3 linked regions of the Homo sapiens genome follow. The protein of the gene in region 2 purifies or fractionates together with the protein of the main gene of each other region. This does not show direct contact. Each region holds a gene or a part of one and is shown on either strand. Other genes may lie near its edges. The genes, in order: MAN2B1, CHID1 and NPR2.

Region 1 (3,646 bases), on a different chromosome or scaffold from region 2:
CTGGGACTACAGTCGCGTGCCACCACGCCCAGCTAATTTTTGTATTTTTAGTAGACAGGGTTTCACCATGTTGGCCAGGATGGTCTCGATTTCTTGACCTCGTGATCCACCCCGCTCGGCCTCCCAAGGTGCTGGGATTACAGATGTGAGCCACTGTGTGGCCTAATTTCCCTACTTTAAGTTTGGCTGATGAACAACCTCAATTCCATCTGCAACCTTAATTCCCCTTTTGCCATGTAATCTAATGTGGTAATAGGTTCTGGGGATCAGGACATGGACACTTTTGGGCAGTTATCATTTTACCCAACACAGATGTGTTAGTGTTTTGCACTAAGTGGCCTGTGGCTGTGGCTGTGTGCACAGTCAGTCACTCTCATCAGCACAGAAACTTGTCTCCCCTCTCCCATCTCAGACACCCCTTCCCATCAATCTTGTCCTCACTACGGTGCAATCTCCATTCCCACCTTCCACTCGCTCCCAGCACTGCTATTTCACCAAAACAGCTCTTTTATGTCATTTATTTTTATTTATTTTTTCTTTTTAAAATTTTATTTATTTATTTATTTATTGAGACAAGAGTCTTGCTTTGTCACCCAGGCTGGAGTGCAGTGGCATGATCTTGCCTCATGGCAACCTCTGCCTCCTGGGTTCTAGTGATTCTCCTGCCTCAGCCTCCCAAGTAGCTGGGACTACAGGCATGTGCCACCAACCCTGGCTAATTTTTGTATTTTTAGTAGAGGCAGGGTTTCACTATGTTGGCCAGGCTGGTCTCAAAACTCCTGACCTCAGGTGATCCGTCCGCCTTGGCCTCCCAAAGTGTTGGGATTGTAATCTGAGGTGGGCGGATCACTTGAAGACAGGAGTTGGAGACCAGCCTGGCCAACATGGTGAAACCTTGTCTCTACTAAAAATACTACAAATTAGGTGGGCGTGATGGCACTCATCTGTAAGACCAGCTACTCGGCAGGCTGAGGCAGGAGAATCGCTGGAACCTGGGAGGCGGAGTTTGCAGCCAGCTGAGATCGTGCCACTGCACTCCAGCTTGGGCGACAGAGTCAGACTCAGTCTCAAAAAAAAAAAAAAAAAAAAAAGTTTATTGAGCACCTACTGTGTACATTGGGGGACACAGCTCGTGCAAAACAAACATCCTTTTCCTCACATAGGTCACTTTCTTGTTCCTCCACCTTGCTCAGGTGAAAGTGCACCTCCATTCATTATAAAAATTGTGTCTAGGCCGGGCACGGTGGCTCATGCCTGTAATCCCAGCACTTTGGGAGGCTGAGGCGGGCGGATCATGAGGTCAGGAGATCGAGACCATCCTGGCTAACACGGTGAAACTCCGTCTCTACTAAAAAATGCAAAAAATTAGCCGGGTGTGGTGGCGGGCACCTGTAGTCCCAGGTACTCATGAGGCTGAGGCTGGAGAATGGCGTGAACCCAAGAGGTGGAGCTTGCAGTGAGCTGAGATTGAGCCACTGCACTACAGCCTGGGCAACAAAGTAAGACTCCGTCCCAAAAAAAAAAAGTTGTGTTTTTTGGTAACAATCTGACAGTCCTGCAAAACGATTATTCCTGCCCTATAATGTCACACTTAGTTTTTCCACAAAAGTTTTTAATAATAAAGTTGGAATTATTGTAAAAGTTTAGTAAAATTTCAGGTTTATTCTTGCATCTCTGAAATCCTTTTAAAAAAGGCTAGTGGTCATGTTTGACTTCAGCCAAAATTCATTTTCACACCCAACCATTGGCTTGCACGCCAAATATGTATTTAGAGAAACTGAACCTATGGGATGCATGAATGTGCACACATGTGTGGAAGTGTGGGCCCCCAGGAAGGTGCGGACTCCCGAGGGCTCACTCCGTCGCCTCCCCCAGCAGCAGGCAAAAGGAAGCAGTGTCCATGTTCTCTACTCCACCCCCGCTTGTTACCTCTGGGAGCTGAACAAGGCCAACCTCACCTGGTATTTGGGGAAACTGGGGAGCTTGGGGGGGTTGGCATGCCCCGTGGGTCATGACCCTGCCCTCAATGCCCCTGCCGCTGTAGGTCAGTGAAACATGACGACTTCTTCCCTTACGCGGATGGCCCCCACCAGTTCTGGACCGGTTACTTTTCCAGTCGGCCGGCCCTCAAACGCTACGAGCGCCTCAGCTACAACTTCCTGCAGGTGGGTAGGAGCCGGGCTAGAGGGGGCATGCAGCCCCGAGGCCCGACAGGCTGGGCGCCCCAACATACCCCTCTGCCTCCAGGTGTGCAACCAGCTGGAGGCGCTGGTGGGCCTGGCGGCCAACGTGGGACCCTATGGCTCCGGAGACAGTGCACCCCTCAGTAAGTGTCGGGCCCAAGAGGGGAAGAGGTTTGCGGCTGAAGTTGGAAACCACCCCTAGGCCGCCCCCCTCGAGTTTCTTCTTTTTTTTTTTTTTTTTTTTTTTTTTTGAGACGGAGTCTCGATTTGTCTCCCAGGCTGGAGTGCAGTGGTGCGATCTCGGCTCACTGCAAGCTCCACCTCCCGTGTTCACGCCATTCTCCTGACTCAGCCTCCCGAGTAGCTGGGACTACAGGCGCCCACCACCACGCCCGGCTAATTTTTTGTATTTTTAGTAGAGACGGGGTTTCACCATGTTAGCCAGGATGGTCTCGATCTGACCTCGTGATCCGCCCGCCTCGGTCTCTCAAAGTGCTGGGATTACAGGCGTGAGCCACCGCCCCCAGCCGTCCTCGAGTTCCTTCTTAAAGCCTCTAAGAATCCTGCCCGCCAGCACCGGACCTTTCGCTTCCCCTTGGGGTCTCAGCTGAGTCCCACAGAACCTCACCGGACTCATTGTCTATGAGCAGATGAGGCGATGGCTGTGCTCCAGCATCACGACGCCGTCAGCGGCACCTCCCGCCAGCACGTGGCCAACGACTACGCGCGCCAGCTTGCGGCAGGCTGGGGGCCTTGCGAGGTGCGCGGGGCGAGACTTGGGAGACACGGGGGTGGAGACAGGAAGGGGCGGGGCCAGGGCCTGGGAAAGGGGACAGAGACAGGTGTGAGGCGTAGCCGAGAGCCCTGTGGCGGGGCTACAAGGGCTCGTGGGGGCGGGGCTTGTAGGAGGCGGGGAAAGATACAGGAACGGGGCGGGGCTTTGGAGGGGGGAAGGAGGCGGGGCGTGGGCAAGAGGAGGCGGAGACAGCTATGGGGTATAGTCAAGGGCAGCAGGGTGGGGCTAGAAGGGGTTTTGGGGCGACTCTTGAGGGAGGCGGGACAGAGACCGGAACGGGGCGGGGCCTGAGGAGAGGGGAGGAGTCAGGCCTGGCGTCCTGAACCCACCGGTCCCTTTGCGCTCTTCCGCAGGTTCTTCTGAGCAACGCGCTGGCGCGGCTCAGAGGCTTCAAAGATCACTTCACCTTTTGCCAACAGCTAAACATCAGCATCTGCCCGCTCAGCCAGACGGCGGCGCGCGTGAGCCGGGACGGGAGGGGTGGATCTAGGGCAGATGGGCTTTAGAGGGGGTAGTTGGAAAATGTTTTTGGAGGACTATACAGGAGTGAAATTACGTGGGCTGCGAAGCTGGGTCAGCAGAGAGAACAACGCATCTCGAGGGGGCTTGGCCTTAAGTGCCGTGACCACACTAGGACCAGCCAGGGGTGTTTCTGTGCAAAGTGGGT
Region 2 (3,646 bases):
CCCTGGGGATTGCACCTTCAAGGGTGTAAACTCATAGAACCACCTCTCAGCCCCAGCAGTCCCCATGCCGCTGGCCAGACCCTGCCACAGGACTGTAACTGTGACCTAGTCCTGGACTGGCAGATGCTTTCTCTGTGCTGTATGGGGGCAAATAAACCATGCAGTGGACATCTCTCTCTCACGGGGCCGCTTGGGGCGAGGTCAAGGGGAGGCTGAGCCGGGCCACAGAGTGTGGACAGAAGAGACAAGTTGATAACTGGATGGAAGGTTTCCAGGAGCAGAGGTGGAGTAGGGGCAGGTGTGACATGGCAGGAAAAGACTCGCATTGGCCAGGGGGGTGGCAGGCAGTGGTTGACCAGCAGGGTTGCATTGGTGGGGGTGGTGGCAGGCAGTGGTTGGCCAGTAGGGTCGTATTGGCGGGGGCGGTGGCAGGCAGTGGTTGGCCAGCAGGGTCACGTTGGCGGGGGCGGTGGCAGGCAGTGGTTGGCCAGCATGGTGGCGTGTGCCTGGCATGTTCTTTTCTTTTTTTTTTTGAGGTGAAGTTTTGCTCTTGTTGCCCAGGCTGGAGCGCAATGGCGCGATCTTGGCTCACCGCAACCTCTGCCACCCAGGTTCAAGCGATTCTCCTGCTTCAGCCTCCCGAGTAGCTGGGACTACAGGTGCCCGCCACCATGCCTGGCTAATTTTTGCATATTTAGTAGAGATGGGGTTTCACCATGTTGACCAGGCTGGTCTCCAACTCCTGATCTCAGGTGATCCACCTGCCTCGGCCTCCCAAAGTTCTGGGATTACAGGCGTGAGCCAATGCACCCAGCGCACCTGGCATGTTCTTGTCCAGCAAAGCGTATGGCCCTGGAGTGCCCGGATGGGTATCGAGTGGCCAGAGCTGGTGCAGACCGTCCACCCTCACATGCAAGGAGGGAGCCACCATAACTGTCTGTCTGCCTGCCTGCCTTCCAGCCCGGAGCAAGGGTGGGAAAGGCCCTGTACCGTCGGCCAGTGTCTGTTGACGGCCAGAGTGCTTCTGAATTGAATTGCCTGCTGTGGCCTCGATCCTCAACATACAGGGTCTCCGGGTCAGCAGCACTGTGTGGATCCAGAGACTCGGCTGCTGGCTGAATGGAAGGGACTTGCTGGGTGGGGCTCTGTGCTCTACACTGTGGACAGATGACTGAGGCTTTTCTCTCACTCCTTTTATTTCAGAGTCAGTTTTCAGATAAGCCGGTGCAAGACCGGGGTTTGGTGGTGACGGACCTCAAAGCTGAGAGTGTGGTTCTTGAGCATCGCAGCTACTGCTCGGCAAAGGCCCGGGACAGACACTTTGCTGGGGATGTACTGGGCTATGTCACTCCAGTAAGTTGGGGCCCTCACAGTGCAGAGGGAGGTCCTGAGGCTCAGGTGGGCTGCCCTGGCCCCGTGATGGCCTCTTCTGGCCAGTCAGTGATGGGGGTCTATGTTCTGATCTCCCGGAGCTGCTGCTGCTGTGAGGCTACGGTGGGAGAGATGCCATTCTGGAGATGTCAGAGTGTAAGACCCTGGGGGTCTCTCCAGGGGCTTGCTGTGCTGATCTCTGTGGGTTCCCCCTGAATCCAGAGGTGGGCTCGCAGGTCGTCTGGGGTCAGGAAGTGGATGTGCAGAGCCAACCCTGGGCCAGGGAGGGGTGGGTTCTCACACCCAGCCTCCTCTTCTCTTGCTGTTCCCAGCTGCCAGCCTGCAGCAGTGGTGTGCACTAGCTCCAGGTGGGGCTTAAGACAAGCACCAGTCACTTTTGGTGAAAGGGATGTCGTGGCCTGGGTCCCAGGCTGTGAGTGGCAGTCCAGAGTAGGAGAAGGATACCCCAGGCCAGGAGCTGATGTCAGTCCGGGCTGGTATCTGTCTACGCTGGCCAGCCCTGGGCACGTCCAGAGGCGCCAGAATGACAGCACCATGGTGAGACAGGTGCTCACTCACCTGTCCTCCGTCTGATGTCTCCATCTTTTGCCAGTGGAACAGCCATGGCTACGATGTCACCAAGGTCTTTGGGAGCAAGTTCACACAGATCTCACCCGTCTGGCTGCAGCTGAAGAGACGTGGCCGTGAGATGTTTGAGGTCACGGGCCTCCACGACGTGGACCAAGGTTCTCATCCTTCCTGCTTGACTGTGCTTGCCCCACAGGCTGAAAAGAGTGTGAGTGCGAGAGCAGGGGTGTGTGTGTGTGAGTAGGTATGTCTCTGTGGGTGTCTCTGTATGGGAGTGTGTGTGTGTCTCTGCGTGATTTAAGTGTGAATGTGAGTGTGTAAGTGTGAGACTGATGATGTGGGAGAGAAGAGATTGTGAGTGTGTTGAATGTGACTGTCGGTGTGGACATGTCTAAGTGTGAGACAGTGGGTGTGAGTGTTGAGTGTGGTGACTGTGAGAACCACGCCCTCACCCCTTGGGGCCCAGCCGGCAGAGCAGGCCCATGGTGTGGGCTGGTGTGCTAAGTGGGAAGGTGAGTGTGGAGCAGGGCAGGCCTGGTAGAGGGGGTTTCTGAGGTGGTCGCCACGGTGGGACCCTCTGCAAGGCCAAGTTGGTGCCTCAGAGTGTTCCGCCCAGGTCTGCGTGTGGTCCAGGTGGCTGTGAGGGTGGCCTTCCCTTGCACTTCCGGGCTGCACACAGGCGTGTGCAGGACAGGCTCTACAATGACTCAGGCAGCCTCTGGGCAGCAAACGGCACGGGCCATTGGCTTCTCCTCCTCTGTCCCTCTCTCAGCGATTTTCATTCAATGCCAGGGAGGAAGGTGGGGTTCAGGCGGAGGCTGCCTCCTGATGGCACATCCTGACCTGATGACGTCTGCCCGAGTTTACGTGGCTGCGCCTTGCGTTTGGGCTCGGACAGAGAGAAATGGCAGGGGAAGTGTTAGGCAGTTTTGGAGTTCAGAGAGCAGGAGTGGTTTTCCCTGACACTGAGAGAACCGTGGGGAGGTGATGGAATGTCAGCCAGTGTCAGGGCCTGGCGGGTCTGGCCATCCCTCAGCTCGGAGAAACCCTGACCGTCCCCAGGCCCTAGGATGCAGCTGCCTGTTCCCCTGGCCGGCCACAGGCTCTGAGCTGTCCCAGCTCAGGGAGGGTAAGCTCAGAGCTGCTCTGCAGGGTCAGGAAGGGGGCCTTGGCCAGAAGGGTGGAGAGTTGGGGTCAGGAAGAGGGTGTGGAGAGCCAGCCCTGGGCCAGGGAGGGGTGGGTTCTCACACCTGCCTGCCCGCCCCTGCCCTTCCCATTGCGTATTGTGCGGCTGCCACGTTTTCCTCCTCAGGTAGGCTGGGTCTTCCAGTTGGGCGCACGTGCCTGTGTTGACTGTCCCCTCCATGTCCCACAGGGTGGATGCGAGCTGTCAGGAAGCATGCCAAGGGCCTGCACATAGGTAAGTGCGGCAGGCCAGGAGTGGAGGCCCTGATGGCTCAAACTGCGGGGGTGGACAGGTGGGCACTGGGGTCTCCACGTGTTCCTGATCACCCGGCTGTGCTGCTGCGGCACAGGTTACTTTGACCGCTCAGAGATGAGGCTGGCCCTGGCCTGGCATTCACAGCCCTTAGTCTGGCTGGAGTCCTGAGCTCTCCTCCCCACACAGGCTGTGGCCCTCCAAAGCCAGCACCTCCTTGGCCAGTGGCATTGCCCTAATTGTTCTCAA
Region 3 (3,646 bases), on a different chromosome or scaffold from region 2:
ACAGTTGCAGCTTCAGGAGCTGCAGGGAAGCCCCTGCAACCCTGCTGTTGGCTTGGGGGTGGCAGGATTCGGCTTGCCAGTCAACTGAGGTGTGCAGTCCTTACAGAAAGCTGATGCTGGAGAAGGAGCTGGCTAGCATGTTGTGGCGTATTCGCTGGGAAGAACTGCAGTTTGGCAACTCAGAGCGTTATCACAAAGGTGCAGGCAGTCGCCTCACACTGTCGCTGGTGAGCCCTTGTCTCAGCTGTTCCTCTGCCTCCCTCTGAGTTCCTGTCCCTTCTTACCCTGGATCTCTCCCAGCACATTGGCTTGTAATGATAGCCCCTGCACTACCACCATCATCTAATGTTCCTTTCATCCTTCCGCCTCCATGTTGCCCTTGGCCCCAGCGGGGATCCAGTTACGGCTCGCTCATGACAGCCCATGGGAAATACCAGATCTTTGCCAACACCGGTCACTTCAAGGTGAACAGTCATTTGCTTGTTCTGGTCCCCACCATTTCATCCTGTCTCATCCCCATCTGCCACCTCTGCCCCTGAACCTCTGTCCCTCATACCCGACTCTCTGTGCCCAGCTGAGCTCCTGGGTGCTTCCACTGCTCTCTAGCATTTCCTTGTACCCAGAACTTCTGATATTCACTTTCCTTTCCCCTTTCACTCCCACCATCAGGGAAATGTTGTCGCCATCAAACATGTGAATAAGAAGCGCATTGAGCTGACCCGGCAGGTTCTGTTTGAACTCAAACATGTATGTAACAGAGGATGGACTCTAACATGTATGTAATGGAGGAGTGGGGAAAACTATGAAATAGTAAAATTGGCTAGATGGGCAAGGGGTTGATTTATAAATGATTTTAAAATCGTAGATACAACTAAGAGAAAGGTCCTCTTATGTAGTGGTAAGTTTCTGTATCTAATTTTTAACTCTTTCAATTTTCTTATCCTTCCCATTGTTTTTTTCTGCCAGATGAGAGATGTTCAGTTCAACCATCTCACTCGCTTCATTGGCGCCTGCATAGACCCTCCCAACATTTGCATTGTCACTGAATACTGTCCTCGTGGGAGTTTACAGGTGAGGGATAGGTGTAGGAGATTATGGCAGGGGTGGGAAGGATAGACCCAAAGTTATACTGACTCTATGCTGGGTGATAGCTGGTGGGACCAGGACAGACAGTCTATTCCATGTCACTTACCAGGATATTCTAGAAAATGACAGCATCAACTTGGACTGGATGTTTCGTTATTCACTCATTAATGACCTTGTTAAGGTGAGTCTTCCCCACTCCTTAAAAGTTCATCCACTTTAAATCACTTCCACTGTTCTTTGATTGTGGTTTTTCTCCTTCTAGTCCTCTGAAGTCCTGTTCTCTCATCTCCCCTTATTCCCATGGTCTGGTAATAATGGGTAAACAAGGAGTCTGGGGCTTATAACTGGGACAGTGAGTTTTACCTGCCACAAGGAGTCCTGTGCCTGTAGAGAGTTTCTATCTTTCTGTCTTAAATATCTCAGGTCTCTTTCCATCATCTCTTTTACCTCTAAGAACTCATAAAATGAGTGGAGTCTCTGAACATATTTTTTTTTTTTTGAGACGGAGTCTCGCTCTGTCGCCCAGGCTGGAGTGCAGTGGCGGGATCTCGGCTCACTGCAAGCTCCGCCTCCCGGGTTCACGCCATTCTCCTGCCTCAGCCTCCCAAGTAGCTGGGACTACAGGCGCCCGCCACTACGCCCGGCTAATTTTTTTGTATTTTTAGTAGAGACGGGGTTTCACCGTTTTAGCCGGGATGGTCTCGATCTCTTGACCTCGTGATCCGCCCGCCTCGGCCTCCCAAAGTGCTGGGATTACAGGCGTGAGCCACCGCGCCCGGCCTGAACATATTTATCTCTTGTTTTTCCTCTCATTATTTTACTCTCCGAACATATTTATCTCCTGTTTTTCCTCTCATTATTTTACTCTCTGACCAATATTTGGCATGTCTGCCCTTTTGTTCAGAAAACTGAAATTTAAAAAAGGAACATTTACTAGTAGAACTAAGAGAAACCAAGGAAGATTGTACTAAAAACCTTTGGTACTCTTCTGTTATACTAGGTTTTAGCTATGTTCAAATGACTCAGAGGCCCATGGATTTGTGGAGCATAAAATAGAATCTTGCATGAGTTGGACAGGTTTTCTGAAATAAGTCTCATAGCCAATGAGCATCCCAGTGGATCACCCCACACTGTATCTGAAACTAGCTTTGGTTTTCTGCTGAATTCTCATGAAGTTATTTAAAAAGTATTTTTTTGTGTGTGAAAATTTGCTATCAAATGAGAGATAAAAATATTAGTAAAGCCAATGTCATGCTCAACTAGAGGTGTGATGATAAACATAAGACACGACTCTTGAGAGAACAGTGATTTGGTGGAAAAGTGATTTACAACAAAGCCAGAAGCCTAATCCTGTGATTGTTGAAGGCATCCTTTGCACAGTTTCCACACAAGTAAATTCACAACTTCAGAGATTCCCAAAAGTTTTGTTGATACCAAAATAAATAAAAAGGAAGAATTCATAGAGATTAGAGTTATGAATTAAGTCCAGAGCTAAACATTTAGACAGAAATGTTTTTTGTTAGCATATTGAACCTTGTATCCTCTTTCTGTCTCACCTGAACTGACTTGGGTGGCTCCTAGGGTTTCATTTTTGGGGAGCATCATTAAGACTTTTTTTTTTTTTTTTCTGAGACAGGGTCTTATTCTGTCACCCAGGCTAGAGTGTAGTGGCTAGGTCACTGCTCACTGCAGCTTCGACCTCCTGGGCTCAAGTGATTCTCCCATCTTAGCCTCCTGAGTAGCTGGGACCACAGCGTGTGCTGCAGTGCCCGGCTCATTTTTATATTTTTGGTAGAGGTGGGGTTTCGCCATGTTGCTGAGGCTGGTCTTGAACTGCTGGGCTCAAGCAATCTGCCAGCCTTGGCCTCCCAAAGTGCTGGGATTACAGGCATGAGCCACTGAGCCCGGCCTTTAAGACTGTCTTTCAGCTCCTCGGAGGCAAAGGTTTTTCCCTCTCTGGACCCACAGAGCCAGCAGTTTTAGGCTTCTGCACTGGCTTAGCAGATTTTGTCCATTTTCCAGGTTTATGATGTTCTGCACTTTCTCTCTGATCCAGCATTCCCTCTAGTAGATCTTGTTCCTCCTCTACCCCGACTTGCCCACCTCCCTCTAGTAGATCTTATTCCTCCTCTACCCCGACCTGCCCACCTCCCTCTAGTAGATCTTGTTCTTCCTCTACCCCGACCTGCCCACCTCCCTCTAGTAGATCTTGTTCCTCCTCTACCCCGACCTGCCCACCTCCCTCTAGTAGATCTTGTTCCTCCTCTACCCCGACCTGCCCACCTCCCTCTAGTAGATCTTGTTCCTCCTCTACCCCGACCTGCCCACCTCCCTCTAGTAGATCTTGTTCCTCCTCTACCCCGACCTGCCCACCTCCCTCTAGTAGATCTTGTTCCTCCTCTACCCCGACTTGCCCACCTACGCCTGGTTATGCATTAAAGTTTACAACTGGTCTTCCTTGGTATATCCAGCTACTCTTGATACCTGGGTCTCAAGTCATGTCTTCCTAATTAGTAGCCAGGTATCTGAGGCCACCATGGGTGTTATATCATTTTGGTCT

The links.
Region 1: the proteins of CHID1 (region 2) and MAN2B1 fractionate together in Homo sapiens (co-fractionation; one large-scale study listed by BioGRID). This does not show direct contact.
Region 3: the proteins of CHID1 (region 2) and NPR2 purify together in Homo sapiens (co-immunoprecipitation; one large-scale study listed by IntAct). This does not show direct contact.

What each region holds. Positions count from the first base shown.
Region 1 is NC_000019.10:12,656,743-12,660,388, reverse strand, and holds part of MAN2B1 (lysosomal alpha-mannosidase isoform 1 precursor), read left to right. Parts: intron 1-1,875; coding exon of another isoform or gene 1,876-1,878; coding exon 1,879-1,961; intron 1,962-2,044; coding exon 2,045-2,165; intron 2,166-2,247; coding exon 2,248-2,326; intron 2,327-2,833; coding exon 2,834-2,943; intron 2,944-3,332; coding exon 3,333-3,440; intron 3,441-3,646. UniProt on the Homo sapiens protein: Necessary for the catabolism of N-linked carbohydrates released during glycoprotein turnover. Cleaves all known types of alpha-mannosidic linkages.
Region 2 is NC_000011.10:900,669-904,314, reverse strand, and holds part of CHID1 (chitinase domain-containing protein 1 isoform a precursor), read left to right. Parts: intron 1-536; coding exon of another isoform or gene 537-611; intron 612-1,203; coding exon 1,204-1,353; intron 1,354-1,984; coding exon 1,985-2,117; intron 2,118-3,334; coding exon 3,335-3,379; intron 3,380-3,646.
Region 3 is NC_000009.12:35,801,537-35,805,182, forward strand, and holds part of NPR2 (atrial natriuretic peptide receptor 2 isoform 1 precursor), read left to right. Parts: intron 1-97; coding exon of another isoform or gene 98-106; coding exon 107-227; intron 228-389; coding exon 390-464; intron 465-669; coding exon 670-747; intron 748-966; coding exon 967-1,071; intron 1,072-1,195; coding exon 1,196-1,267; intron 1,268-3,646. UniProt on the Homo sapiens protein: Receptor for the C-type natriuretic peptide NPPC/CNP hormone. Has guanylate cyclase activity upon binding of its ligand. May play a role in the regulation of skeletal growth.